Regions from separate parts of the Homo sapiens genome. Here regions 2, 3, 4 and 5 are each reported to be linked to region 1. Evidence: microRNA targets listed by miRTarBase, many of them from high-throughput screens and not tested one by one. Region 1 holds a microRNA gene; each other region holds the end of a gene's coding sequence. Distances are from middle to middle.

Evidence for each region. Region 1 holds the annotated microRNA hsa-miR-132-3p (UAACAGUCUACAGCCAUGGUCG, at 2,402-2,423, opposite strand). A microRNA usually pairs through its seed, bases 2 to 8, with sites in the 3' UTR of a target mRNA and lowers its output. Matches are read on the target gene's strand: a 7mer-m8 pairs with bases 2 to 8, a 7mer-A1 pairs with bases 2 to 7 and ends in A, and an 8mer does both.
Region 2: the mRNA of EMILIN3 is a reported target of hsa-miR-132-3p. The part of its 3' UTR that is shown has no 7-base or 8-base seed match.
Region 3: miRTarBase lists PSMD12 as a target of hsa-miR-132-3p. Seed matches in the 3' UTR shown: 8mer at 1,939-1,946.
Region 4: miRTarBase lists LOXL1 as a target of hsa-miR-132-3p. The part of its 3' UTR that is shown has no 7-base or 8-base seed match.
Region 5: the mRNA of RRS1 is a reported target of hsa-miR-132-3p. Seed matches in the 3' UTR shown: 7mer-m8 at 779-785.

Annotation. Positions count from the first base shown.
Region 1 is chr17:2,047,528-2,053,531 of GRCh38, forward strand. It overlaps MIR132 (microRNA 132), which reads right to left and starts at 2,481; the gene lies at 2,381-2,481. It overlaps MIR212 (microRNA 212), which reads right to left and starts at 2,853; the gene lies at 2,744-2,853. LOC124903896 (a long non-coding RNA gene) reads right to left here and starts at 2,422. Exons shown (of 2, transcript XR_007065576.1): 1 at 1,634-2,422; 2 at 1,180-1,231. RefSeq lists silencers at 2,177-2,976, 2,987-3,136 and an enhancer at 3,682-4,577.
Region 2 is chr20:41,357,297-41,363,300 of GRCh38, reverse strand. EMILIN3 (elastin microfibril interfacer 3) reads left to right here. Exons shown (of 4, transcript NM_052846.2): 4 at 247-3,339. The coding sequence ends at 2,033. It overlaps LPIN3 (lipin 3), which reads right to left. Exons shown (of 20, transcript NM_022896.3): 16 at 5,854-5,940; 17 at 5,267-5,419; 18 at 4,950-5,064; 19 at 4,759-4,862; 20 at 2,719-4,579. The coding sequence ends at 4,435. Among named protein-coding and RNA genes, the nearest start is that of EMILIN3, 6.5 kb to the left of the region's middle. RefSeq lists enhancers at 4,031-4,638, 4,639-5,246.
Region 3 is chr17:67,336,728-67,342,731 of GRCh38, reverse strand. PSMD12 (proteasome 26S subunit, non-ATPase 12) reads left to right here. Exons shown (of 11, transcript NM_002816.5): 10 at 469-546; 11 at 1,680-4,816. The coding sequence ends at 1,889. Among named protein-coding and RNA genes, the nearest start is that of PSMD12, 27 kb to the left of the region's middle.
Region 4 is chr15:73,949,504-73,955,507 of GRCh38, reverse strand. It overlaps LOXL1 (lysyl oxidase like 1), which reads right to left. Exons shown (of 7, transcript NM_005576.4): 6 at 5,934-6,004; 7 at 3,372-3,677. The coding sequence ends at 3,671. Among named protein-coding and RNA genes, the nearest start is that of LOXL1-AS1, 24 kb to the right of the region's middle. RefSeq lists an enhancer at 2,294-2,977.
Region 5 is chr8:66,429,904-66,432,903 of GRCh38, forward strand. It overlaps RRS1 (regulator of ribosome synthesis 1), which reads left to right. Exons shown (of 1, transcript NM_015169.4): 1 at 1-830. The coding sequence ends at 326. It overlaps ADHFE1 (alcohol dehydrogenase iron containing 1), which reads left to right and starts at 2,601. Exons shown (of 14, transcript NM_144650.3): 1 at 2,601-2,672. The coding sequence starts at 2,614. It overlaps LOC102724687 (a long non-coding RNA gene), which reads right to left and starts at 2,463. Exons shown (of 5, transcript XR_929013.3): 1 at 2,381-2,463. RefSeq lists an enhancer at 629-678 and a silencer at 2,435-2,854.

The sequences.
Region 1 (6,004 bases):
GGCAAGCACCACCATGGCTGGCTAATTTTTTGTGTTATTAGTAGAGACGGAGTCTGACCATATTGGCCAGGCTGGATTATTATTAAGACAGGGTCTACCTCTGTCACCAGGTGCAGGATCATGGCTCACTGCAGCCTCGACCTCTTCGGCTCAAGTGACCCTCCCGCTTCAGCCTCCTGAGTAGCTTAGCTGAGACTACAGGTGCCACCTATCACACTGGCTTTTTTTTTTTTAAGACATGGGGTCTCACTATGTTGCCCAGGCTGGTCTCGAATTTCTGGGCTCAAGCAGTCCTCCAGCCTCTGCCCCGCCCCGCAAAATGGTGTGATTACAGGCATGAGCCATGTCTCCCAGCCCTAAATAATGATTTTTTTTTTTTGAGACAGGGTCTCACTCTGTCATCCAGGCTGGAGTACAGTGGTGCAATCACAGCTCACTGCAGCCTCAACCTCCCAGCCTCAAGCAATCCTCCCACCTCAACTTCCCAAGTAGCTGGGACTACAGGTGTGCACAACTAATTTTCTTTCTTTTCTTTCCTTTCTTCTTTCCTTTCTTTCTTTTTTGTAGAGATGGGAGTCGCATTGTATTGCCCAGGCTGGTCTCGAACTCCTGGGCTCAAGAGATCCTCCCACCTATGCCTCCCAAAGTGCTGGGATTACAGGCGTGAGCCACTGTGCCCTGCCCTAAATGATTTCTAAGATGCTAAACAACCCTGACGTACGGTCAATCCTCTGGTTCTTTCCCCTCTGACCACATTCTGACCTCTTCTCAGAATATCCCAACCATTTCTGTTTTCCACCTCTGATTCCACCTTGGATTCCTAGAGCTCTTAGGAGAGAGAACCCCCTTAGCAAGGAACCTCTCAACAGCCCCAGGCCCAGAGTGAACCCGGGAGGCGGAGGTTGCAGTGAGCCGAGATAGTGCCACTGCACTCCAGCCTGGGCGACAGAGCGAGACTGTCTCAGAAGAAAAAAAATAAAAGTATATGTATGTATAACATATATATAATATAGATTATATATATATTAGACAATAAATATATATAGCCTAAAGCTCAAGGTGTACCCCCCACATCCCGTTCATTCTGCCTAAGTGCACAGAGCTGGGGTCCCCTCCCAACACCACCCCTTCACAAACATGTAGTAGCCTAACAGAATACTTAAGATCAAAATAACATTCTGCTGTTTTTGGATTTTTACTTACATGATCCTATTTAATCCTCACAGTGCACCTGCCGAGGAGAAGAGATTATTATCCCGTTTTACAGAAAGCTCAGAAACAGAATATGGCCCCTTAACCACCAGTTGCTGATAATGCCAGGTTGGACCTCTGGCTTCCCAGAGCACTACACCCAGCAGTCCACTGCAGTCCACCCACTGACATCCCCTGGAACCCAGAAGCAAGTGCGTTTTAATCTGCAAGACCTCGGGGCCCTGGGGAGGTGGGATGGCTAGCATGTGGGTGTTGATTAACTGGGAAACCGGCACGAGTGTCTTAGAAGTACTTCACAAAGGAGCCGGGTGGGGAGTGAAGGAGGGGGTGGGGCGTGAGACGTTAAGAAAAATTGGATTAACGTGTCGTGGGCTGGGTTGCATTAACCATTCCCAACACTATCTCTGGGGAAGTCTCACACCTGATATTCAATAGACATCCCCTGTAGTGGGTGATGTTGGCAGAGGCAGGCGACATATACAATAATATTTTTAGAGATCCTTGTTCACACTTCATCCGCACCAGAGGACTTCAGCCCCTGTGGTATTCACTCCTCTTTAGGGCTAATTTGAGAAACTGTCTCAGATTGGAATCCAGCACCTAGAGATAGGCTGAGGTGAGCAGGCTGATCTGTTCAGACGCTTCGCGGACCAGGTTAACTTTACAAGCTCATTGGCTTCCAGAGGGTTGGGGACCCTTCTTATCCTCCTAGCTCAGAGGGAAAGATTCAAGAGTTTACTCTTCGCCCAATGCCCACTTCAGCTAGGGGTTCCTGGAAGAACGGGGCTGTGGAGTATCTCAGAAAACTTTCCTCCCTCTACTGTCTTCAGGCCCCAGGAGACAAACCTCCTTCCAAGCCTCCTGGTCCCAGTGGCTTCCCTCTCACCGAAATCGAAAGAACCCGAGTCCCAGCCCGACCCCTTCTCTCGCCGAGCCCTGGCTGGGATACCTTGGCCGGGAGGACAGGACGGCCTCAGGCTGGCCGCCAGACGCACTCCGCAGGACGCGCGCGCTCGAGCCTCGGTGGACTCAGCCGCCGGCCCCGGGAGGCCGCCTCCCTGCGCAGCACCTCCTGCCACCCGCGCGGGCACGTGGGATCTTGACTCGCCGCCCCCGCCTCCTTCTGCTCCGCGTCCCCAGCCCGCGGCTCGGGGCGCGGCGTGGCGCGGCGCGTGGGCGTGCTGCGGGGCGACCATGGCTGTAGACTGTTACCTCCAGTTCCCACAGTAACAATCGAAAGCCACGGTTGCCCTGGAGACGCGGGGGCGGGGCGCGCGGACGGCGCCGGCGCGGGGCGGGCTGACGTCAGGGCCGCGGGGGGGCGGGCGGGGCGGCGGGGGCTGAGGAGCGCGCGTGGGCCACCGCCCCTCGCAGCCCCTAGGGACCCGGACGGGGCGGCCCGATGGCGGCGCCTGCGTTGATCAGCACCGCGGACAGCGGCGGCGCAGGCAGCGGGCCGGGGGCGGGGCCCTGAGGGACGGGGACTGGGGGTCCCCGGGCGCGGCGGCGGCGGCCGGGGCCGCGGTCCTGGGGCGGGGCCAGGCGTCGGTGGCCGTGACTGGAGACTGTTACTGAGGGCGGCCCGGGCAGTAAGCAGTCTAGAGCCAAGGTGCCGGCGCGCTGTCCGGGCGGGGTGCCCCGGTCGCCCCGGCTGCCCCGGCTGGGGGCTCTGCTGCTCCGCCTCCCCTGCGTCTCCCGCCCTGCCCCGCCCGGCGCTCGCGACCAGGCACGCGGCCCCTGACGTCAGAGGGCCGTGACGTCAAAGATGTCCCAGAGGGGGCACTTCCGGCGGGGGCGTGGGGGCGGGGCGGGACCTGGGAGGCCCCGCCCCCCCGGTCCTGAGAGGACAGCTCCGCTCGCAGAGGCGGGAAGCCGTGGGCGCCGCGGGACCCGCTGGACGGGACCTGCCGGGAAGGGGCGCCCGACGCCATGCGGGGCGGGGGTCCCAGGAGGGCCGGGGAAGCGGGGGTGGGCGTCCGTCTCTCGCCTGCACCCCCGCTCAGCCGGCCCGGGCAGCGAGGCTGAGTCACCGCGCCGCAGGGAGGGAGAGGAGGGGGCGCGTCTCCTGGGGCGCCAGCACCTTCGCCTCACTTTCCTGGGAGAATGGCGCAGGAGCCCCAAGAAAGCCGGGGGGGGGTCTCCGAGGTCGGTCCTCCACTCGATGCTCCTCCGAAGTAGCTGCGTGTCCATCGGGCGCCGGCAGGTGCTGCGCGGGCTCGTGTCGTCTCTGGCCCCGGCTCCGCAGCCGCGAGGGGACCCCGGTGCCCCCCGTCCGCCCCCATCCCCACCCCGGAGGGGCCGCCCCACCCGCCGCCTGCCCGTCCCCTCCTCGTCCTCCCGTCCGTGTCCGCACATCTGTCCCTCCGCGGCTGGTCCGTCCCGCTTACCTGGCGGGCCGCGTCGCCACTGCCCGGTCGCCTCCCGCAGCCTGGCCGGCGCGGCGGCTTTTATAGGCGCGCGTAGTACTCGTGCGGCGGCTCATTCATGCGGCCGCGGCTCCTACACACTGACGCGCTGCCGACGTCAGCGGGGAATTTAGGAAATGGGAAAAGGGGCTATTTATAGTGGCGAGGCGGGGGGTGGGGACCGAGGCGACCGGGAGGGGAGGAGGGGGCGCGGAAGCGGCGGCGGGGTAGGGGGAGCCGCGCCCCTGCCCAGCCGACAAGGGGTTAACTTTCCGGAACCGCGGGCCTGGGGCCGGGGAGGCGGCGCGGAGGGGCGCGGCGGGCCCTTCGAGCTTATTCACGCTCTCCTTCCGGAGCCCCGCGGCTCCTGGGGGTCTTCACGTGGCAGCCCCTTCCCCCTCCTCAGTTCCTGGACCTGACGTTTCTGCCGTCACACCCCGCAAGGCCACTGCGGTGTCGCCACCCTCTCGTCCTGCAGGGTGGGCAGGAGAGGAAGCTGGACTCCCGTGGGGGCCTGGGGCGCAGCGAGGGCTGTGGCGTCGGGGGCCGGGAGAAGAAGAGTAGGGGAGCCCAAAGTAGCCCAGGAGTCTTTAGCGGAGGAACCTGGGCCTGGGAGGGAAGGCCCAGCGGGGATTCAGGTACCACCCAGGAGCTGGAGACCCGAGGGACGGCAGAGAAGTTGGGGAAGGTGGGCCAACCTCCCCAGAAATGATGAGCAACGGGATCCTCTATGAGGGAGCTGGGGGAACGCGCCAGAGGTAGGGGTGAGAGGAATGGGCAGCCTCAGCAAGGGAGAGAGGAAAGGCTGTCAGTGCCACGCTCCAGAGCCTGGCATCCAGGACCCACCTTCGGACCATTTGTGGCACGATGGACGCTCCCAGAGCTCACGTTAGGGTAATAGAGAGTGAAGGAGACCAGCAGCTTGGCCAAGAGGGGCCCCCAGGGGATGAGGAGGACGGTTTCCTGGAGAAGTTAATGTTCCCGGAGACCAGAATTGGCAGGGAGAGCCCATGACTTGTGGGGCAGTTCCCCTGGTTGGGAGCGGGGAAATGCATGGTCCTGGCCCAGCCTGGCTCCATCGAGATGGAGGAAGGGTCTAAATGAGAGGAGTGTGTTCAGACGAGGAGCTGGACCAGGATGGGGAGGGCTGTGCAAGGCATGGCCGGAAGAGCGGGGCAGGGAGAGAAAGGTCGAAGAGTGAAGTGCACAGGAGGGCAAGGCGGTCCTCACCCTGCCTGGGCTGGGGCAGGGCTGTGAGACCCTCCCTTACAGAAGCAATGAGGGCTTGAGGAGGGGGTTAGGGGCCTGGGCTGGGGCAGGGCTGTGAGACCCTCCCTTACAGAAGCAATGAGGGCTTGAGGAGGGGGTTAGGGGCCTGGGCTGGGGCAGGGCTGTGAGACCCTCCCTTACAGAAGCAATGAGGGCTTGAGGATGGGGTTAGGGGCCTGGGCTGGGGCAGGGCTGTGAGACCCTCCCTTACAGAAGCAATGAGGGCTTGAGGAGGGGGTTAGGGGCCTGGGCTGGGGCAGGGCTGTGAGACCCTCCCTTACAGAAGCAATGAGGGCTTGAGGAGGGGGTTAGGGGCCTGGGCTGGGGCAGGGCTGTGAGACCCTCCCTTACAGAAGCAATGAGGGCTTGAGGAGGGGGTTAGGGGCCTGGGCTGGGGCAGGGCTGTGAGACCCTCCCTTACAGAAGCAATGAGGGCTTGAGGATGGGGTTAGGGGCCTGGGCTGGGGCAGGGCTGTGAGACCCTCCCTTACAGAAGCAATGAGGGCTTGAGGATGGGGTTAGGGGCCTGGGCTGGGGCAGGGCTGTGAGACCCTCCCTTACAGAAGCAATGAGGGCTTGAGGATGGGGTTAGGGGCCTGGGCTGGGGCAGGGCTGTGAGACCCTCCCTTACAGAAGCAATGAGGGCTTGAGGATGGGGTTAGGGGCAGTAAGTTAACTTGGGGAGCGGATGTGGGGGAACGCTGAAGAATAAAGACTGTGGGCACAGCAGACCCCTGGGGCAGGTTAGCAATGCACAGACTCCACTGCACAAGATACATGGGGCGGAGGGGCTCTTTGGAAGTCGGGGGTGGGGGATCTGACTCTATCAAAAAGAGAAAAGATAAAAGAGATGGGGTCAGAGAGGCCCTGCATAGTCTGGATTTGGCCTACTAGAGCTCCAGTTTTCTTGCCGCTAGCCTTTGTTCCAGGGATTCTGTTATTCACAAATGCCTTCCTGCTCGGTAGAAGAACTCCTATTCATCCGTCAAAGCCCAGCTCTAGGAGCACTTATGAGGAGCCTCTCCACCTCCCCTCAACACTCCGTAACTTCCACCTCAGGCCGCAGCACGTCCCTCGGGCGAGATGTCGGGGTCCGCCTTCCCTAGAGACCGGCAGCT
Region 2 (6,004 bases), not on the chromosome of region 1:
GGCGTGGTGGTGGGTGCCTGTAGTCCCAGCTGCTTGGGAGGCTGAGGCAGGAGAATGGCATGAACCCGGAAGGCGGAGCTTGCAGTGAGCCAAGAGCACACCACTGCACTCCAGCCTGGGCGACTGAGCAAGACTCTGTCTCAAAAAAAAAAAAAAAGAACAGAAAGTCTCTTGGGTGGCCTGGCATTGTGACAAGCTGAGAGGGTGAGGCCAGTGATGCCCCTGGGGCTCTCTTCTCTTTCCCAGGAAGGAAAGGCCCAGGGCTGTTTGGTGAGCGGCTGGAACGCCTGGAGGGTGATGTCCAGCGCCTGGCTCAAACATATGGTACCCTCAGTGGCCTGGTGGCTAGCCACGAGGATCCCAACAGGATGACTGGTGGCCCCAGGGCTCCTGCTGTCCCTGTGGGCTTTGGGGTCATCCCTGAGGGGCTTGTGGGCCCAGGAGACAGAGCCAGAGGGCCACTAACACCTCCCTTAGACGAGATCCTAAGCAAGGTGACAGAGGTGAGCAACACTCTTCAGACCAAGGTGCAGCTTCTAGACAAGGTGCATGGGCTGGCACTTGGCCATGAGGCCCACCTGCAGCGGCTGCGGGAAGCCCCACCATCCCCGCTCACCTCCCTGGCCCTGCTGGAGGAGTACGTGGACCGACGGCTGCACCGACTCTGGGGGAGCCTGCTGGATGGCTTTGAGCAGAAGCTGCAAGGCGTCCAGAGTGAGTGTGACCTGCGGGTGCAGGAGGTACGGCGGCAATGTGAGGAGGGTCAGGCCGCCAGCCGGAGGCTGCACCAGAGCCTTGATGGCCGGGAGCTGGCCCTGCGCCAGGAGCTGTCACAGCTGGGCAGCCAGCTGCAGGGCCTGAGCGTGTCTGGCAGGGGCAGCTGCTGTGGGCAACTAGCCTTGATCAATGCCCGTATGGATGGCCTTGAGAGGGCCCTGCAGGCAGTCACCGAGACCCAAAGGGGCCCCGGTGCCCCGGCCGGGGATGAGCTTACGAGGCTCTCTGCTGCCATGCTCGAGGGAGGTGTGGACGGGCTGCTTGAGGGTCTGGAGACGCTCAATGGGACAGAGGGTGGAGCAAGGGGATGCTGTCTGAGGTTGGACATGGGGGGGTGGGGAGTGGGCGGCTTTGGGACCATGCTGGAAGAGCGCGTGCAGAGCCTCGAGGAGCGCCTAGCAACATTGGCTGGGGAGCTAAGCCATGACAGCGCCTCTCCGGGCAGGTCAGCTCGGCCCCTTGTACAGACAGAGCTGGCTGTGCTAGAGCAACGGTTGGTCTCACTGGAGACTTCGTGCACCCCGAGCACCACCTCAGCCATCCTGGACAGCCTCGTGGCAGAGGTGAAGGCCTGGCAGAGCCGGAGCGAGGCCCTCCTACGCCAGGTGGCCAGCCACGCAGCACTGCTCCAGCAGCTCAATGGCACTGTGGCCGAGGTCCAGGGACAGCTGGCAGAAGGGACGGGCAGCTCACTTCAAGGCGAGATCACTCTGCTCAAGGTCAATCTGAACTCAGTGAGCAAGTCGCTCACAGGCCTCAGTGACTCTGTCAGCCAGTACTCTGATGCCTTCTTGGCTGCCAACACGTCCCTGGATGAGCGGGAACGCAAGGTGGAAGCCGAAGTCCAGGCCATCCAGGAGCAGGTCAGCAGCCAAGGCTCCAGGCTTCAGGCTGGCCACAGGCAGGTCCTGAACCTGCGTGGGGAGCTGGAGCAACTCAAGGCTGGTGTGGCCAAGGTGGCCAGTGGGCTGAGCCGCTGCCAGGACACAGCCCAGAAACTTCAGCACACAGTGGGACACTTTGACCAGCGGGTGGCACAAGTGGAGGGTGCGTGCAGGAGGCTGGGCCTGCTGGCCGCGGGCCTGGACAGCTTGCCCACTGAGCCACTGAGGCCCAGAGAGGGCCTGTGGAGCCATGTGGACCAGCTGAATCGTACGCTGGCCCAGCACACGCAGGACATTGCCCGCCTCCGGGATGACCTACTGGACTGCCAGGCCCAGCTGGCTGAGCAGGTGCGGCCAGGGCAAGCCAACTAGACAGGCTGGCCAGGACCCAACCCCTAGATCCCACCAACTCGGGGAACATCACCCCAGAGCCCAGCCTTATCCAGCAGCGCCTTCCAGCCTTCCCTGGCTAGCCCAAATGGCACTAAGGAGGCCACTGAGGGAATCCTCCACGTGGCTGTCCCAGCCACCAAAACCCATGCACAGTGCTGCAGAAACTGGACAGTTCCGGACAGCGGTCAAGGCAAGGATGTCATGCTTGAAGGCCAGGGTAGACTTGAGAGAGTTCACATTCCACTGTCAGCAAATCAGTGTCTGGACAGCCAGCTGCAGGGCCTGAGCATGGCTGGCAGGGGCAGCTGCTGTGGCAAACTGGCCTTGATCAGTGTCCGTATGTAAGGCCTTGAGAGGACCCTGCAGGCAGTCAGCACCAGCCTCAGCAACTGTGCAGAGACCTACAGGCCCACAGCCAGTGGCCTGTCCGCATTGCCCTGTGCCCACAAGCAACAGTCCACAGCCCTTGGTGGCTTCTGTTCCTTGTCCCCTCGGCTTCTCTTCGCAGCCATCAGGACTAGGTTTGTGCAGGAAGGTGATGCCCACTGGAACTCTCCTCACACCTGGCAGCTTCATGGATGTTGTATCTGAACTAAGGACCAGAGGCTGCCAGATGTTTCTGGCTCCTCACGTGTCCTTCAGGACAGAACAGAAGCACAAAGACTCAGCCAAGAGTTCTCTTTATTCCCTTTGATCCTCCCCCAAGGTGAGGGCTTAGGCAGCTGTAGAACCCCAGGAAAGAACGGAATCCAGGCAATCTGTTTAGAGACCCCCCACTCCAAATTTATCCTTTTCCTTTCCTTCCCCTAAGATGTTTCCAGGGCCCTCTGGTGCCCACACTGTCCTCTTCCTTCCACTTGGGGGTGGGGAAATCCTTCCTGCGAGGTCAGGGCATTTCTCTACAAAGTGGCCTGAATGAGGCCAGGCCCTGAGAAGGAGCCACCAGCTGGAGGAAAGGGGCTCCAAGCCTTGCTTTTAACACCCCTGCAAAACCCCCACCCTCCCAAGATGTTCACAAAAGGTGAGAAATTCAGGTACGAAACCATCAATGGACAACTTGAAAATGCATGTTCCTCAGGCCTATGCAGTTCCCAGAGACTCTTGACACCGGTCTCTGCTGAGGCTCCCAGCCTCAGTTTCCCCCACAGCAGCACGGGCCCCACTGTGCTGCTCTTCAGGTCCCCACAGCCCTGCCTTTGGTTCCTGGACATTTGGTATTCTGCCCTCCACTCTGGTACTATCAGAGTAGGGCAGGCTCTGGATTAAAGCTTTTAGCCGGTCTAAAGCTACTTTCTTCAAAGACAGTGGGAGGAGAGGTTGCTGGGGCATCAGCCCTGCTTCCCACAGCTCCTTAGGCAAGAGCTTACCCAGCAGCTGTGAGCACCAAGCTGGCCAGCAGAGGCTGGGGGAGGACTTTCAGGCCAACACCTGCCCCAGCTGAGTTTGGGACTGTCCTTAAGCGAGGTCTGGAGAGAGGCAGCGGCAGCAGCCGGACGGGGAGCAGGCCAAGCCGGAACCACAGCCTGCAGGTGTGGGTGTGTGTCATGTGCTGAGATGCCAGGGCACCAGCAAGGGGGATATGTTGGCAGTGATGTCTGGCTTCGGAGGGTACAGTCCTGGCTCCCAGACAAGGGGCGGGGAGAACACTGTGTCCTTCCAGAGGCTGTACCACACTCCCACTGCTGTCACCCTTCACTGAAGCCTCGAGCCTCGGTAGGGCCTCCCTCTTCTCCCTGTCCTATCAAGACTTACAGCAAGGTCCCAGGTTGACAGGGAGACAGATATCAAGGGCATAGAAAACCCTGCAAGGAGGCCTGGCATGGTAGCTCATGCCTGTAATCCCAGCACTTTGGGAGGCCGAGGTGGGCAAATCACTTGAGGTCAGGAGTTCGAGACCAGCCTGGCCAATGTGGTGAAAACCCATCTCTACTAAAAACACGAAAATTAGCCAGGCGTGGTGGTACACGCCTGTAATCCCAGCTACTTGGGAGGCTGAGGCAGGTGAATCGCTTGAACCCGGGAGGCGGAGGTTGCAGTGAGCCGAGAGATCATGCCACTGCACTCCAGCCTGGGCAACAGAACAAGACCCTGTCTCAGGAAAAAAAAAAAAAAAAAAAAAAAAAGAACCCTGCAAGGGCCCAGATGACAAGCTAATTGCCCCAGGACAGTGCCACACTGACGCCTGGAGCAGCTGCAGCTTAGCTGGCAAAAATATGACGGGGAAGATGGGGGAGTCTCTCTAGCTGCCAACCAACCTGCAGCCTCCTCCTTCCCCTTCAGTGGGTTTGCCCCATGACACTCCAATTCCCACCCTCCTATACCCCAGGACACCTAGCCAGTCCTGGGCCGGGCCAGGGAGGAGGAGCCAGCCAGGGCAGGTTCAGTCCAGGGTATCAAGGTCCACAGCAGGCAGTGGCTCCCGCCAGTAGCAGAAGTTACTGTATTCAGGGTTGGCCAGGTCTGTGCTGGGGCCACGGGCCACAGGTGGGAAGAGGAGCTCGACCACTTCACCAAGCCGCTCATACCTACAGGCAGAAGGGGGCCAGCACTGAGCCTGAGCTGCCACCAAACGATGGCCTTGGCCATGGGTCTGTCCCAGAGTAAGGGACAGACTCCCCGGTAAGAGGTAAAATTGGGGCCCAGGGAGAAGCCAGGGCAGGGGGACGTGGTAGGGCATGGGGAACATGGCAGGGTTTAGCCTCACGTGGATTTGTGGTTCTTTATGAGCTCCTGGATGAGCTCTCCCCGGGGGTTGACTGTGAAGATGCGTGACTCAGGCAGGCCCACCTGCCGGTAGGCAAAGACATCCTGTGGGAGACAGGAGGGGCCCATGGAATGGAGGCCTGCAGGCAGCTGGGGAGAGGTGGCTCAGCAGAGTGGAGGGGACACACTCACATTGGGCCTATTCCCAAAGGCAGCATAGAAGGGCTGTCCGTGGGGCAGAAACAGCTGCTGGATGTCACTCAGGCAGGCGACCTTGAACACCTCTGGTTTCTTCTCGATCACCTCTCTGGGGTGGCCAGAACCACAGCAGGGAAGGGGGCCAAAGTAGGGAAGAAGCCAGAGGGGATGGCAGGCTCAGGTGATGGGGGGTCTGACCCCACCCTCCTTGCCACCTGAGAGCTTAATGCCAGCCTGCTAAGGCTGGCCTGGCAGTGGGCCTGCCTTTCCCCACCAGGGGGCCACGGGCTTGTATGTGTAGGGGTGGTTACCTGTGGAGGGCAGAGAAGAGGCTGCTGGGAGACAGAAGGATGGGGCCCTTGGGGAGGCTACAGCCCCCCTCGCTCACCCACTGCAGGTACCCCTTGGTGAGGTCCGCCATGCCAATGGCCCGCGCCGAGCAGTACAGGAACTTGTACCCATTTCTGAGAGTGGGGGACAGGGTGGCATAGAGCCATCAGAGACCAGCCAGCCCCCATCTGTTTCTCTGGCTTTAGCCTGCCCAGCCCAACTGTGGGACTCTGATGTTCCAACCTTTGCAGGGAGGGGACTTGAAGAGAACGGCCAGGCAGTGGACTCAGCTGGACGGTGCACAGAGTCCTGAGGCCTGGGTGGACCAGGATGGAGAGGGCCTCCCCTCCGGCTGCAGGCCAGTAGGTGGGCCCTGATCCTAGAACACAGCCCCAGGGGATGAGCCTTTCCCAGAACTGCGGGCCAATAGAGAGGTCTCAGCACTCCAGGCACCTGCCCTGGCAGCCTGCCTTGTGGGCCCTGCTGGTCCCCAAGATGTCCTGTCCTGTCACTCCCTCTCTAGAGCTGGGGGCCTCGCCTCAGCCCCAGCCCCAGCCCAGGCACTCACAGTTGGATTTTGTGATAGAGACTGGTGATGCCCTGGTGTGTCCAGTCTTTCCCCAGCTGGGGCAGGATATGGCCCAGAGCATCTGACCTAGAGTGAGAGAGGAAGGGTTACTCCAAGGCAGCTCCACGTGGCCCAGCTCCAGCCCCAGGAT
Region 3 (6,004 bases), 65 Mb from region 1:
CTCCTGGCCTCAAACAGTCTTCTTGCCTCAGCCTCCCAAAGTGCTGGGATTACAGGTGTGAGTCCCTGCACCCGATCGATCTCCAATCATTTTTTAGATTTTAGCCTTTAAAACATTTGTGTTATAATTAGAAAATCTTAACTTTAGATTCTTGCACTCAGCAAAAATATTTCAGTACAATTATAATTTTTAACCACTAGTTAAGACAGGCATATATTTTGACTATATATTTAAAGAGCTGTGTAGAATATTCATAGTAATTCAGAATAACTACAGAAACCAAAATATCTAAGTATTTAGTTTTGTTATTGAAACTTAGAACTAGCTTTGCTCCAGTGATGGACTGTAGAAAAATAAAAGCTCTGAGTCTAACATTTTAAGTAAACTTACTTGGATATGAAAATAAATGGACTTTTAGACTTACTGACAAATGTTACGTGTTCTCCCTGCTCTCTATCCTCTCCCCAGAATATTAGAATAATGGCCAAGTATTATACTCGGATAACAATGAAAAGGATGGCACAGCTTCTGGATCTATCTGTTGATGTAAGTAGTAATCAACTTTGAGTTATTTGTAGGCATTCCTTTTGAATGTTGACTTGTAAAAATTGAGTAAGAAAATCAATGTTATGATTTAATTTTATGTTTAGGTAATAGAGTAATAGTTTCCCAAGCAATCTTGAGTACCAAAAACTAACTTAAGTATCAAGTGATCCTAGGTCTTGTTGGAACAGTGTTGTCTTTAGGTCCATGTTTCTATGTTGACAAAATGCATAGCACACAAAGAGGAGTTAACCCAAGTGTGTAGTAATGGCCTGAAAGCCATTTCTGTCCCCAGAAGGATCTGTGACAGTTTAGGTGGTAAGACTCATGGAACATTAGAGTTGGAAGGTTTGTTCCTTGATCAGCTTGTCAGCTCTTGTCACTTATGAATGAGAGTACCAGAGTCCTTAGAAGTCAAGTGTCTTGTCCGTGGTACATACTTGCCAAGTAGCAGAGCATATATTCTAACCCAGCATTTCTGGAAACAAATTAACTGTACCATACTGCCTTTTAAGGGGAAACTTTGTAGAAAAGGGAGTAGACCAACTTGCCGTTGGCATGGATACCAGCAGTATTGAGCTTGCAAGGAGGCAGATTCAAACTCACCCCTGACTGAGTCTACTCAGATTCTATTCATTCCCTAGACTATCAGTAAAATAAGTACTTATTATAGGAAGTCAGCAGTTGCTAACTCTTTTTTTTTTTTTTTTTTTTTTTTTGAGGCAGAGTCTCACCTTGTCGCCCAGGTGGGAGTGCATTGGTGCGATCTCAGCTCACTTCAACCTCTACCTCCCAGGGTTCAGGCGATTCTCCTGCCTCAGCCTCCTGAGTAGCTGGGACTACAGGCGTGTGCCACCATGCCTGGCTAATTTTGGTATTTTTAGTAGAGATGGGGTTTCACCATGTTGCTCAGGCTGGTCTTGAACTCCTGACCTCAAGTGATTCACCCAATTCAGCCTCCCAAAGTGCTGGGATTACAGGTGTGAGCCACCACACCCAGCTGAGTGTTACTAACTCTTAAGAATGAATTCCCCTGCATATTCTTGGATGAAGAGTTCAGAAAATGCTTTTCTGAAGTTTTGTTTATTGTCTGTAATTTATCCTGTCTTAATCCAATTTATCTTTCTCTCTTGCAGGAGTCCGAAGCCTTTCTCTCAAATCTAGTAGTTAACAAGACCATCTTTGCTAAAGTAGACAGATTAGCAGGAATTATCAACTTCCAGAGACCCAAGGATCCAAATAATTTATTAAATGACTGGTCTCAGAAACTGAACTCATTAATGTCTCTGGTTAACAAAACTACGCATCTCATAGCCAAAGAGGAGATGATACATAATCTACAATAAGGGTCTTAGTGCTTTAGAAAAAAGTTAAAATTGGAAGTCATTAAAAAAAGACTGTTATAATGGTGTATATGTTGGGGTTTTTTTTCTAAGCTTCTTTGTCTTAAATTTTAAAATAGTGAATATGTTTGAGACTCCCTTTGACCTTTCAGTTCCCCAAGTTCATTGTTAACTTTGCATTTGCAATTGGTGCAAAAATACAGATTTCTGTCGTCTGAATACACAAAAAGTTGTGTCATAACTTACCCAGATATGTTTTTCTATCATTTGAAACCTTTTTAGCTACTGTTTGTTTTCATTCAACTAACAAACATATTCCAATAATAAAAGCAGTATATACATATTTCCTTTCTACAGTTACCTCTGATTCTCAACATTTTGTGGGGTAGTGATTTGGCAAGTGTTTTTTAAATAAAACAAATCTCATTGTAAAGCTATCAGTCATTTAGTAGAATAGAAAAGCAACATAGAGCATACAAGAACATTTGGGATAGAGTTGTGATTTGTGAAGAATTTGTACTTTGATATTGTGGCGGAAAGTCTAGACTGAGTGTGTATGCTGGTAAACTGTAGACTTTTTTTTTTTTTTTTTTGAGTCCGGCTGGTTCCAATCACAGTAGCTTGATTGCTTTCAGCCCTCATCCTCTCACTTGATCAGTTGTTCAACAGAATCAGCTGACATAATTGACACAGTTTATTGGGTGTTAAGTCCGCTCTATAGGGATAGTGACTACTTTTTTTTTTTTTTTTTTTTTGCTCTTCTTCCTCTCCCCTTTCTTTATATGGGTTTAAATTTAACATAAAGTTGTTTTTATAAGGCTTATTTGTGGCTTTAACTTGTAAGTCTGATTACATCATTATTGTTCCAAATTCATTATCTCTGTAGGAACTTTTAGTTCCATTATATGAACACTGGATAACCTAATTTTTTTTAATGCTTTAAAAAAATGGCAAAAAGACGTCAGGCCACCCTCATAGTAAGTGGTGTAGTATTAAAATATTTTCACGGAATTAAAAGTAGCTTGCTGTCAAAGAAACACCTGAGATGAATTGGTGTGAACGAATTTTGCAAGTTTAATTTGATTTATTTCAGAGAAAATAGAAAAAACAATGTTAGAAGGTTATTTAAAATGATACTTAAATAAAGAAAGTGTGAGGTCTACTTTAAAAAAATTCAAATGAAGAGAAAAAGAAAAACAGCATTCTAGAAATGGCATTTCTCCTAATTAATTTTCCACTTAATGGAAGATTATCAATTGTCCTATTTTATGATCCCAGGACTGAAGACAGTTGTGGGATATCTGTCATATTTATCCTGTGAGTCATTGTGAATAATGACATACAGTACTGAAGTAATCTGATTTTATTCTTTGGAAATTCAATGCATTGGTCACACTAATAACATCAACATCTGCTATCACTTATCTTTTTAAAACTAACCAAAAAAGGCCGGGTGCAGTGGATCCCAGCACTTTGGGAGGCCAAGGCGGGTGGATCATCTAAGGTCAGGATTTCGAGACTAGCCTGGCCAACATGGCAAAACCCTGTCTCTACTAAAAAAAATACAAAAATTTGCCGGGCGTGGTGGCGTGTGCCTGTAGTCCCAGTTACTTGGGAGGCTGAGGTGGGAGAATTCCTTGAAGCCAGGAGGCGGAGGTTGCAGTGAGCCAAGATCACACCATTGCACTCCAGCCTGGGTGACAGAGTGAGACTCCGTCTCAAAAAAAAAAAAACAAAACTGGAAAGTTCAGAAACAGAAGTTCACACTAACAGAGTATGGTTTTAATTTTCCTTTGAATGAAAAGGATAGAAGATAAAATTGTGTATTGTTAACATGTAAATAAAATTGGAGCTAATTTGAAACTAGCTTCTCAATAACTTCATCTTTCTAGAGACTCATTACCTGTGGGCTTGTCAAACCTGGACTATTTGGCCAAATAGGTTGCTATAGAGATTGCAAGTGTTCCTCCTCTTTATTTTTTTCATATTTTTTGAGACGGAGTTTCACTCTTGTTGCCCAGGCTGGATTGCAGTGTCACGATCTCGGCTCACTGCAACCTTTGCCTCCCATATTCAAGCAGTTCTCCTGCCTCAACCTCCCAAGTAGCTGGGATTATAGGCGCCTGCCACCACACCTAGCTAATTTTTGTGTTTTTAGTAGAGATGGTTTCATCATGTTGGCCGGGCTGGTCTCAAACTCCTGACCTCAGGTGATCCACCCGCCTTGGCTGCCCAAAGTGCTGGGATTACAGGCATGAGCCACTGCACCCAACTCCTCTTTCGTCTTTCTTTAACACACACTAGGCTCTTTGTGTATTATGATTCAGTGCTATTTGTAACTGTGTCCCAGTGACCAAATTGCACTCGACTCGATCAGCTGTTCATCCATTTCGTGTTTTTTCCTGTCAAACATTAATCCAGCAAATATATGAGGTATTTACCAATTTATTTTCTTAGTATTACAAAATAATTCATTAGCATAAAGTACAATAGTGAAATATTTGAGTTGTTCGGAACCTCAATTAATCCTGTTTTACATTTCAGACCTAAAGCTGGCAATCAGGAGAAGAAGCACTTTGTTTTAAATGTGGAGAAGATAACACTTGATTCCATTTCATTGTCATTAGTGTATTAACCAGCAGGAGAGGTGATGAGCCATTTTTCAAATGAAATACCTTTTATTTCCATATAATTTTTTTATTTTAGAGTTCAATAGCTGTTTCTATGATTATCCTCAATTTCCATATGTTACTGAATCTGAAAAACATCTTTAAAATTCAAACAGTTCCATTTTCTCTCTTGTAAGTGTTAAATGTGATAAAAGTACATATTTTAAATTGTTTTCAGCTCTTGGATATAGCAGCAATAAAAACACTAATTTGTGGGTATTTAAGAAAACCTGGAGAATAAACTCATACTTTAAAAGATCACTTCTCTTTTCAGTTCTCATTGTCTGAAACAAAAAGCCATAATTTTCATTTTTACCCCAAATCATCTCTCTCTAAACCTACTTTTTTGTTTTGTCTTTTAAGACTTTATTATATTTTTAGAGCAATTTTAGATTCACAGCAAAAGTAAGTGGAAGGTACAGAAATTTCCCATATCCTCCTTGCTCTCACACCTCCCTCATTGTCAACATCCCCCACAGAGTGGCACATTTTTTACAGCTAATGAACCTGTTTTGACACCATTATCACCCAAAGTCCGTAGTTTACGGTTCATTCTTGTACATTCTGTGTGTTTGGACAAATGTATAATGGCATGTATCCACCATTATACTACCATAATACTTCACCGCCCCACAGTTCTCTGCCAGTTCATATCTTCCTGCAAATCCCCTGACAATTGTGAGTCTACGGTTTCCATAGTTTTTCCCTTTTTCAGAATGTCATATAGTTGGAATCACAGTAGGTAGCCTTTTTTTTTAGATCGGCTTCTTTCACTTAGTAATACGCATTTCCATTTCCTCCACATCTTTTCATGGCTTGATAGCTTATTTCTCTTTAGTGCTGAGTAATATTCCATTGTCTGGTTGTACCACAGTTTATCCATTCAGCTCCTGAGGGACACCTTGCTTATACATTTTGGCAATTACAAATAAAACTAAACATCTGTGTGCAGGTTTTTGTGTGGACCAAGTTTTCAAATCCTTTGGATGAATCTGAACCTGCCTTTTAAGCGGTGACAAAACACCTTGCACATGTTTCGAAAGCCAGCTGACGGACTTTGCCCCTCCTAAACTCCCGATTTGGGGTTGGTGGCTTAGGCCGTGCTTTATTGGGCACCTGACAAGTGGTTCTTCATCTCAAGGCCCATCAGAATATGCGCGGGGCTTGTTACACACAGATGCTGGGCTCCACCCCCAGATTCACACTCAGTCGGGATGGAGCGGGGCCCACGAATTTTAATTTCTAACAAGTTCTCAGTACCCGAACTACTGGTCCATGGACCGCACTTTGAGAACCACTCTTCTTGACAACATGGGTAGTAAGGACTAGAAAAGAACTGAAATGTGTTGGTGTTTTAGATGTTTAGGGGAAAAAAACATGGATATCAGTTAAGGTACATGTGGCGGTAAAGCTACAGCGAGATGCTCATCCGGAGCCCGTTGTTTTAGG
Region 4 (6,004 bases), not on the chromosome of region 1:
TCGAGAAGCAGTGAGCTCCCCAGCCCTGGGGCTGAGCAAGAAGAGGACAGGGAGGGATGCTGGGCAGGTGACTTGAGGCCCTTACAGCCCAGGTGGATTCCTGCACACCAGTGCCCAGTGTACCAGCAGAGACCCTCTTGGTCTGTGCAGCCCAGAAGGAGGTGCTGGGTCAGGAGTGAAGATGGCACCTATGGTTTTTTTGTTGTTGTTGTTTTGCTTTTCTTTTTTTTTTTTTTTTGAGGTAGAGTCTTACTCTATCGCCCAGGCTGGAGTGCAGTGGCACAATCTTGGCTCACTGCAACCTTCGCCTCCTGGGTTCAAGCGATTCTCCTGCCTCAGCCTCCCGAATAGCTGGGATTACAGGCGCGTGCCACCATGCCTGGCTAATTTTTGTATTTTTAGCAGAGATGGGGTTTTGCCGTGTTGGCCAGTTGGTCTCGAACTCCTGACCCCAAGTGATCTGCCCGCCTCGACCTCCCACAGCGCTGGAATTACAGGCGTGAGCCACTGCACCTGGCTGAGATGGCACCTATGTAACCTTTGTCCAGCATGCAAGGCTCGGGTGCCTCCTCCCATGCCCCTGTGTGTCCGTGGCAGGGTGGGGGTGGGAGAGTCCTGAATGAGGCCACACAGTGCACCCCAGTTGAAGGGGAGAGGGGATGGTTAAGGAAGGCTTCGAGAAATCGGGGTTTCAGCTGGCCTTGAAGGGGCAAACGGAAGGGTGAAGGGACCAGTGGGCCTGAGTCCCTGCGTCACGTGACCTGGCCTCCAGTGGGCCTCACACACCCCTCCCTGGGCCTGGCTTGGTGGGGTGAGCCCAACAGGTGAGCTCTATCTAGGGAGGGGCCCGAGCCAGGTGACAGCAAGAACAAGGAACAAGCAGGCTGTTCCTCCATGCAGTGACAGCCAGACAGACCTCAAGAGGCTGAGGCCGAGCTGGGAGAGCACTCCTCTCCCAGCCGCCCTCCTCAGCTCAGCGCCTGCTGGGCCCCTGCCGTCTTGACAGTTTTTCTCTCCCCATTCTCAGGGAGACTCTGCCATTCTACATGGAGTCAAAATACCTGAGGAAACCCTGCCCCCTGAGGTGGGAGCAGCTGCATCTCCTTTCCCGAGGGGCCGTCACTGCTGGGCAGTGCCGTGAAGCTGCACTGATAGGGCCCTGACAGGTCAGCCAGGAAGCGGTGAGGGCTGCCCTGGTCCCTGCGCGTCACGGCTGTCTTCTCTCTTCTCTCTCTATCTCTCTTCTCCTTTGGGTGAAAGCCTCCTCTGCTTTTTGGGGGGCAAAGGGGTATCTGAAGCCCCTCCCCAGAGATCTAATCTCAGAGTCCTCCCAGCATGTGAGGACTGGCCCAGGTGTCCTCACTCTGATGGCAGGCTTGGGGACATCCACCAGCCCCCCTAGAATCTGAACTTCAGGCCAAAGGTTCATGGGCACGCGGGAGCACTGTGTCTGGGAGTCTCCTTGTGTGCTCCCCACCTCCCCACACTTTGTGATGTGTGGGCTTTTTGGAAAAGCCACCCTTACTCTCTCCTTCCATCCAATTCTGTGTTCAGGGCCATAGCTCATCTGCTGAGGGTACAGATCTCCCCAGAAAACTGCACACACCCGGCATTTGGCCCTGGCCTAGGGCTTAGAGACGTGAGCTCCAGCACTGTGTCTGCCTTGAACTTGCCTGTGGTCTCAGACAGGCTTCAGTTTTCTGACCTGAGAAATGGGGGCTTTTGTCTCTACCTCATACGGGCCTCCTGACAGTCTGGAATTGGTTGACCTTGTCTGACCCCCTCCCAAGCTCACTCCTGGGAGTATCTAGGAAGGAGAGGGGGTGGGGCTGCAATAAGGACAGCATCTTGGGAAGCACACACCGGCAGGGGATGCAGCAGAATGGCAGCCCTGGATGACAGGCATGTGCCTGTACTCCTCTCACCCGTCCTGGTCCAGCTCCAGAGGGAGAGTGGCAGAGCTGCGGCACCTACCCTGTCAGCAGAGTTAAATCCCAGCCAGACCTGCAGAGGAAGGGCCGAGGGAGGGCTGCAGCCACACCCACTCCACCCTGCTGCCTGGGCTGGTGAGTGGCCCAAGGGCTCCAGGGGACTGGGCCAGAACCCTCCTGGATGCATAGCATGGCTCCAAGAAGCCCTCCCTCTCTACTGCACCAGAAAACCTCCTTGCTACCAGGGACCCTGAGGCAAGGATCGCATCAGAGCCAAAAGCAGGGGACACCTTCTTGGAGGACCTCTGCAAATGGGCTGGGGCTCACCAAGATCTGGAGGGGTGGGTGCTGACACCCTGTAGCTCCCCCGGCACCTCCCCTGCAGCAGTAGCTCATCAACTCTCCATGTCAGTGTGGGAGCCAGGCAGGAGGGCATTCCCATCTTACTCATGAGGAAACTGAGGCCCGGAGATGAAGTCTGACTTGCCCACAGTCACACAGCAGTGAGCAGGATTGGCCCTGGAACCCAGAGCCCTGGTACTTGGACAAAGTCTCTTTCCCTTTCTCACTGGTGTTGCCCCCACAGGGAAGCAGGTGGGTCTGGAGGCATCCCGAGGGCTCGTTGTTCAGGGCCTCGAGGAGGAGAGGCACCACCCTCTCACTTCTTCCTGGTCCATTCCAGTGTCCAGGACCTCTGGGATGCCACAGCCAGGGCAGGGGACGGGGGCTGCAGGGCTGCGGGGCCTCCCTCCATCTCCCACTCACACCCTGTCGGCCTGCAGCCCCACCTCATGATCTCTGCTCAATGCTGTCTCTCTGCCAAGAATCCTCTTCTCCCCTCCCTGCCTGGAAGGAGGCTCTCTCCCATGTGAAGGCTCCCCAGAACCCCTAGGTGCTGCCTCACTGGGCAACGCGTGCTCCCCGTTCCCTGTGGTTATGCGCTCCCTGAGGGCAGAAGCTACGATGCTCCTGCGTGTGCCCTAGCACAGCACCTGGCCTTCAGGAGACTTGAGTTCGGGAGCCTGCAATTGTAAGGGAGTGGGTGGCTGGTGGAGAGTGAACGGTGTGAGAGTGAGAGGGCCAGGAGGGGGACCGGTGGGAGTGTGAGGCTGAAGGCTGAGAAGGGGCAGCAGTGGGCACACGAGCCCAGATAGGAGCAGGGGCTGAGCAGGGAGAGCAGGCTGGTGCCGCCCACCCCGCTGCAGGGCCCTCCCCTAGTCGGATGTGGTCCCATTCCCATGCGACAGGCTTGGCCAAGGGCTCAACCCCACAGGCTTCCACGATGGGCTCAGCGCCCTCATGGTCACTGTGGTCCTGACCGGGTGGTGGCTGCCCTTTCCACATTTGGCGAGGGGAAGGATGATGCCTAAGGACATCCCCCAGGCCCAAACTAGCTGTGGCTGGCCAGCCAGCCAGCAGGCCGCATGCAGAGCCACAGAGTAGAAAAACCTTGTTTTATTCAGCCCAGACCTGGGCAATCTAGCTCTGTGGTATGGCCAAAGTATAAAAAATAAAAACCAACAACAACAAAACAACACTGTAGAGAAAAGTGAAGTATAAAATGGGGTCTGGCGTCCGGAATCCCTGTGGTTTTCATCCACGTTCGCTCCCTGAGGCCGGCAGGGAGGGATGCCCCTCCGTGCCTGTGGGTTGGGGGCTGGGCCCCTCGGCGGGAGGCTGCCCGGGGAGCAGGGCCTGCTTTGGAAGGGGAGAGATTGGCCATCTGTCCCTCCCGGAGATCAGGATCTGAGGAAGGAAAGACAGTGGGTCAATGAGGGGCTGCAAAGTAGGCCCCCGTGGCCTCCTCAGCCAGGGCGTCCCTCCCACAGCCCAGATCCCTCGTGGCAGGGCAGGCATGGGCCTACATTTCCCTCAAGAGAAAGTTCCGACCCCCTCAGCCCAGCTCCAAAAGGAGGGGTTTGATGGACTCCCACCCACCCAGGGCACAGTCTCAGCACATTCCCCTCCCCATGCCCTAGTCCCAGATTGTTTTCTAGGCCATTAGCAGAGCTGCTACTGTCTGGAAATACTTTCTTGTTTTTTCTAACTCAGTACTTTTTTTTTTTTAAGCCTCCTTTTTCCTCCAGAAACACGATGGAAACCCACAGGCGTCAGTCCCGTGGCCTTTCTGGGAACGCTCTGTCCAGCTTCCTGTGCACGCTGGCCCAGCTGCCTGCCTGCGGTCAGGGTCACAGAGACTGAGACACTCTAATAAGGCCCGGCCTTTCCAAGCACTTATGTAAAGAGCTCTTGGAAGGAAGGGCTTTGGCTCCCCCTGCTGCCCACAGGCCCCCGGGGAGCTGGGAGGGCCGCGCAGGCTGCTTCTCCATCTGCCCTGCCGACAGCCCTCCTGGCTGCTCCAGGCGCCTGGCACGTGGGATGCTGTTTCTGTTCCCATCCCCCTTTCCCAGCAGCAGGAGGGATTCCCTGCCTCCCCGAGCCCCCAGCAGCCTCCTTTGTTTCCTGGATACCCCCTTCTTCCTTCCTCCTCCTTCCCTAGAATGGCTTCTACCACTTAGGTGACCCTGGGTCTTGAATGGCTAAGACAGGCCCTGAGGAGCAGGAATGTGCTGGAAACCCAGGCCTGCTAAAGAGCCAAACTGCCAGTGATGGGACAGGAGTTCGTCCTTTCAAACATGCTGTGTGCCCTGGGGAATTCTGATCTCATTCTACTCATGAGGAACCTAATCTCTGCACTGAACTGGAGGCTGCTGTTCCCATTTTTAATATTCATGATGTGGTGGCAGCATGCTGTGAACAGTTAGGTTGATGGTAGCAACCAAGTGTGAGAGGGCTGTCTCTAAATGAGCCTGGCTCTGGTCACAGACTGAGCCCTGACCCTGGCCACACACTAAGCCCTGATCCTGGTCACACACTGAGCCCTGATCCTGGTCACACACTGAGCCCTGAGCCTGGCTACACACTGGGCCCTGACTCTGGTCACAGACTGAGCCCTGACCCTGGTCACACACTGGGCCCTGACCCTAGGTATACACTGAACCCTGATCCTGGTCACACACTGAGCCTTGATCCTGGTCACACATTGAGTCCTAACCCTTGTCACACACTGAGCCCTAACCCTTGTCACAGACTGAATCCTGACCCTGGCCATACACCACACCCTGACCATAGTCATAGGCTTAATCTCTCATACCTGCCATCCATTAATAAGTACACACTTTTAGGGAAAGATACCTCTCTGGGCCTTAAGATCTCTACCACCTTTCTCCCAGTTGATGAACTAAAGCTGAAAGCTCTAGGACTAATTTTTTTTTTTTTTTTTAATGGAAAAGGGTTGCTTCGATCTGGAGTGTGGTGGGGTTTCCTTGTGAGCTTGTAAGCAAGGGGTCCCTCTGCAAACTACTTCACATGGGGAATCAGGAGAAAGACTGAGGACCCTACCCAGCAGCATGTGCCAAAATCCCAAGCCCAGATTTTAGGCACTTCTTCTACAATGGGGGCCTAGGGACTGAAGATGGCTCCTTTGAACCAGAATCACTTCTAATCTGTGACTGTTTAATCCAGTCCACTTGAAAAGGACACTAATGATCACAGCTGCTGTTCACTGTGTGCCACTGTGAACATGCAGACATCAGGCCTGTAGATCCTCATTGCCAGCCTATGTGGAAATACCTATTTTATAGTTGAGGAAAGTAGCTCAGGGAAGTAACCCAATGTCACATAGCGAGGAAGCTGTGGAACTGGGACTGCAGAGCTCATGGCCTTGCATCAAATGACTCTGCCTTCTGCTGGTTTTCACTTGGGACATCTCAGGGAGCCACAGGATGCAGCCCCAGATCAACACCCTACGGCCTGAGCCCCACCGTAAACACTCAGCTTGGGGTTGGCACGGACAAGGCTCTTTTTGATGGGCCCTGCTGCAGCTGCGTTCGGCCATCAAGGTGACCTAAAGTGCAGGTATCTTAGGTATCTCAGGTGGCCTTGCCTGCTCCCCAGGCAGGAAAGGGACGGAGCCAGGAAGGGTGGTGGGCAAACTCTTACTGGACAATTTTGCAGTTTGTTGCAGAAACGTAGCGACCTGTGTAGTGAATGTTGCATCTCACCACGTTGTT
Region 5 (3,000 bases), not on the chromosome of region 1:
TCGGGGACTTTGCAGCCGAGAAAAAGAACCAGTTGGAGCTGCTTCGTGTCATGAACAGCAAGAAGCCTCAGCTGGATGTGACTAGGGCCACCAATAAGCAGATGAGGGAGGAGGACCAGGAGGAGGCCGCCAAGAGGAGGAAAATGAGCCAGAAGGGCAAGAGAAAGGGAGGCCGGCAGGGGCCTGGGGGCAAGAGGAAAGGGGGCCCGCCCAGCCAGGGAGGGAAGAGGAAAGGGGGCTTGGGAGGCAAGATGAATTCTGGGCCGCCTGGCTTGGGTGGCAAGAGAAAAGGAGGACAGCGCCCAGGAGGAAAGAGGAGGAAGTAATAGTTTCTAACTGTCGGACCCGTCTGTAAACCAAGGACTATGAATACTAAATGTTAAGTTCTAGGCAATTATACGGGGACTCAGAAGGACCTGGCCGCTGCCTTCATTGAGTTTAAAGGGACAGGATTGCCCTTCCGTCAAGAAAGTATGTAAGTGTTGGACTGCACAAATTAATGTTTTTCCCACAACCGAGACTTTGGAGATTAAGAACTTATTTGAGGATTTAAGAATTAGGGAAATAATTTGGTGGAAACCGGGAATGAGTTCTATTCTTAAACAGCCTTTTTTTTTCTTTTTAATGTTGGATATACGGCGAGGTAGAGTTGGCCATATTTCAGAGACTTAGATTGACGTATATGTTTCTGCATTATTTTTACAACAAGTTTGTGTATCAGAGCGGGAGTGCGGGGGAGGGAAAGAAAACAAACAGTTTCAGAATTGAATAGGCAAGTGACTGTTTTAAAGATTAAGTAATAAAGATGTCTTATCTAGTGTGACTTTTAACTTTCTGACTACTGGGTAGAAATTGTACTTGAAGCCGGTTACCTGGATACCTGGTACAGATTATTTTTGTTTACTTTCTGAAAAACACAAAGCAGGCCGTGCGCAGTGGCTCACTCCTGTAGAGTCCCAGTACTTTGGGAGGCCGGGGCGGGCGGATCACCTGAGGTCAGGAGTTCGCGACCAGCCTGGCCAACACAGTGAAACCCCATCTCTACTAAAAATAAAAAAATTAGCCAGACACGGTGGCTGGTACCTGTAGTCCCAGCTACTTGGGAGGCTGAGGCAGGAGTATCGTTTGAACCTGGGAGGCGGAGGTTGCAGTGAGCCCAGATCACGCCACTGCACTCCACTCCAGCCTGGGCAACAGAGGAAGGGGCCATCTCAAAAAAAAAAAGCAGTTCAATTATAATGGTTTCAGTGATACCACTTCTAAACTTATACTTCTTTTGGTATCAAATATAATATTCAAAGTAGTAAAACTGATGTCTGTTTTTTAAAAAGATTTTATGCCTTTCAACACTGAACACATGGATTTCCTGTAAATGATCAATTTGGGCTTCATTGACTAATGGTAATAATCCTCATTAATCCAGAAAACACTTAAATCTTTCTCTACGTTTATATCCCCAGTTGTTTGTGTGTGTGTGTTTGTTTTTAAGCTTGACGTCAGGTATAGTTTTGTTTGGGGGAAGAAAGAAACAGACCCATAAGATCCTTAATTAGGACATTATTATCTTTTTTTAAGTTCCGGAGTAGATGTGCAGGATGTGCATGTTTGTTACATAGGTAAACGTGTGCTGTGGTGGCTTGCTGCACCTATCAACCCATCACCTAAGTATTAAGTCCCTCTGCCCCCTTCTATCCCCTGCCCCCAGGCCCCAATGTGTGTTGTTCCCCTCCCTGTGTACATGTGTTCTCATAGAACATTATTTTTTGATTCATTTGTCAAGTTGGCCTGAGCTGGTTTGATTAGGAGGTGAAATGTTTATATAGCTGTCCTTGGTCTTCCTGTCCATCAATCTTTTCCAGTTTGATCGCAGTAAATTCATTTCTGTAAAACTTAATATCTCCCATAAAGGATTCAGATTTCATAATAACAGATTACTAAAAATGCAAATGTTTAGTTGTTACTGTCTTTGGATACTTTCTGATAAAGTTGAGCTTTATCGTTAATCAGCTTTTCCACTGGGACATGGCAGATATGGCACAGCCAAGCCCTCCCGGAGCATAGTCTAATCATGGCAAGTTTTAACTATTGATGTAAGAGTTTTAACTATTGATTTTGCTTTCATCAAAAGCAAAGCCATTCACACAGTATTTAACAAAAACCCTCGGGCTCTGCTAGGTTCTTGTTTACTGTTAAAACAGTTTAAAGGCAGGGTCTTGATCACTTAAAATACTCTTAGAAGGGAAAGTAACATTTTAAAGGATTAACAGTGGAAAAAGAATATCCCTGTTCCTCTTCCTTCCCCCAAGTCCTCAACATGTGAAAAATAGAGTTGATAAGTAAGGAGATTTAAGGCAGAACCCGAGGCCTACGGAGCAGTTACCTTCTACGGCAATTTCAAGGGTGGATGGTGCGAGCGCCGCTGGGGCAGCTGGCGTTCTGGTTCTTACTCCGTGGGAAAATGGCCCTGAGCCCGACTGGCTTGAGGCTTAGACAGGTGACCCCGCGAAGCGGGTGGGCAGGCGCGGCCGAGGGGCGGGAGGCGGGCAGCCTCCGTGATTGGCCGGCGGAGGGGGCGGTGTAGCGACCCGAGGAGGGAAGAGGACTCCAAGCGCCATGGCCGCTGCCGCCCGAGCCCGGGTCGCGTACTTGCTGAGGCAACTGCAACGCGCAGCGTGAGTGCGGGGCCGGCGGGCGGGCAGGGGACCGCAGGGTGCCCACGCAGCCCCCTGGGTGTGACCCGCTCAGATCCTGCGCAGTCTTCTCCGCTTACTTTCAAGAATTCGGAGAATTTGGATACCGCCCTGGGCTCCCACCGCGCGCCAGGCGGAACAGCGAGGTCACAGAGTGCGCGATGCAGCCTCTCAGGGCGCAGTGAGGCAGCCTTTACTCTGCTTGTCTACCGTTAAAGAAACTGAGGCCCAGAGAGGACCTGGTCCCACATCGTAGCAGGCAGTGGAGAGCTTGGCACGGTGGCCAAGACAAATTCATGTATGCAATTGA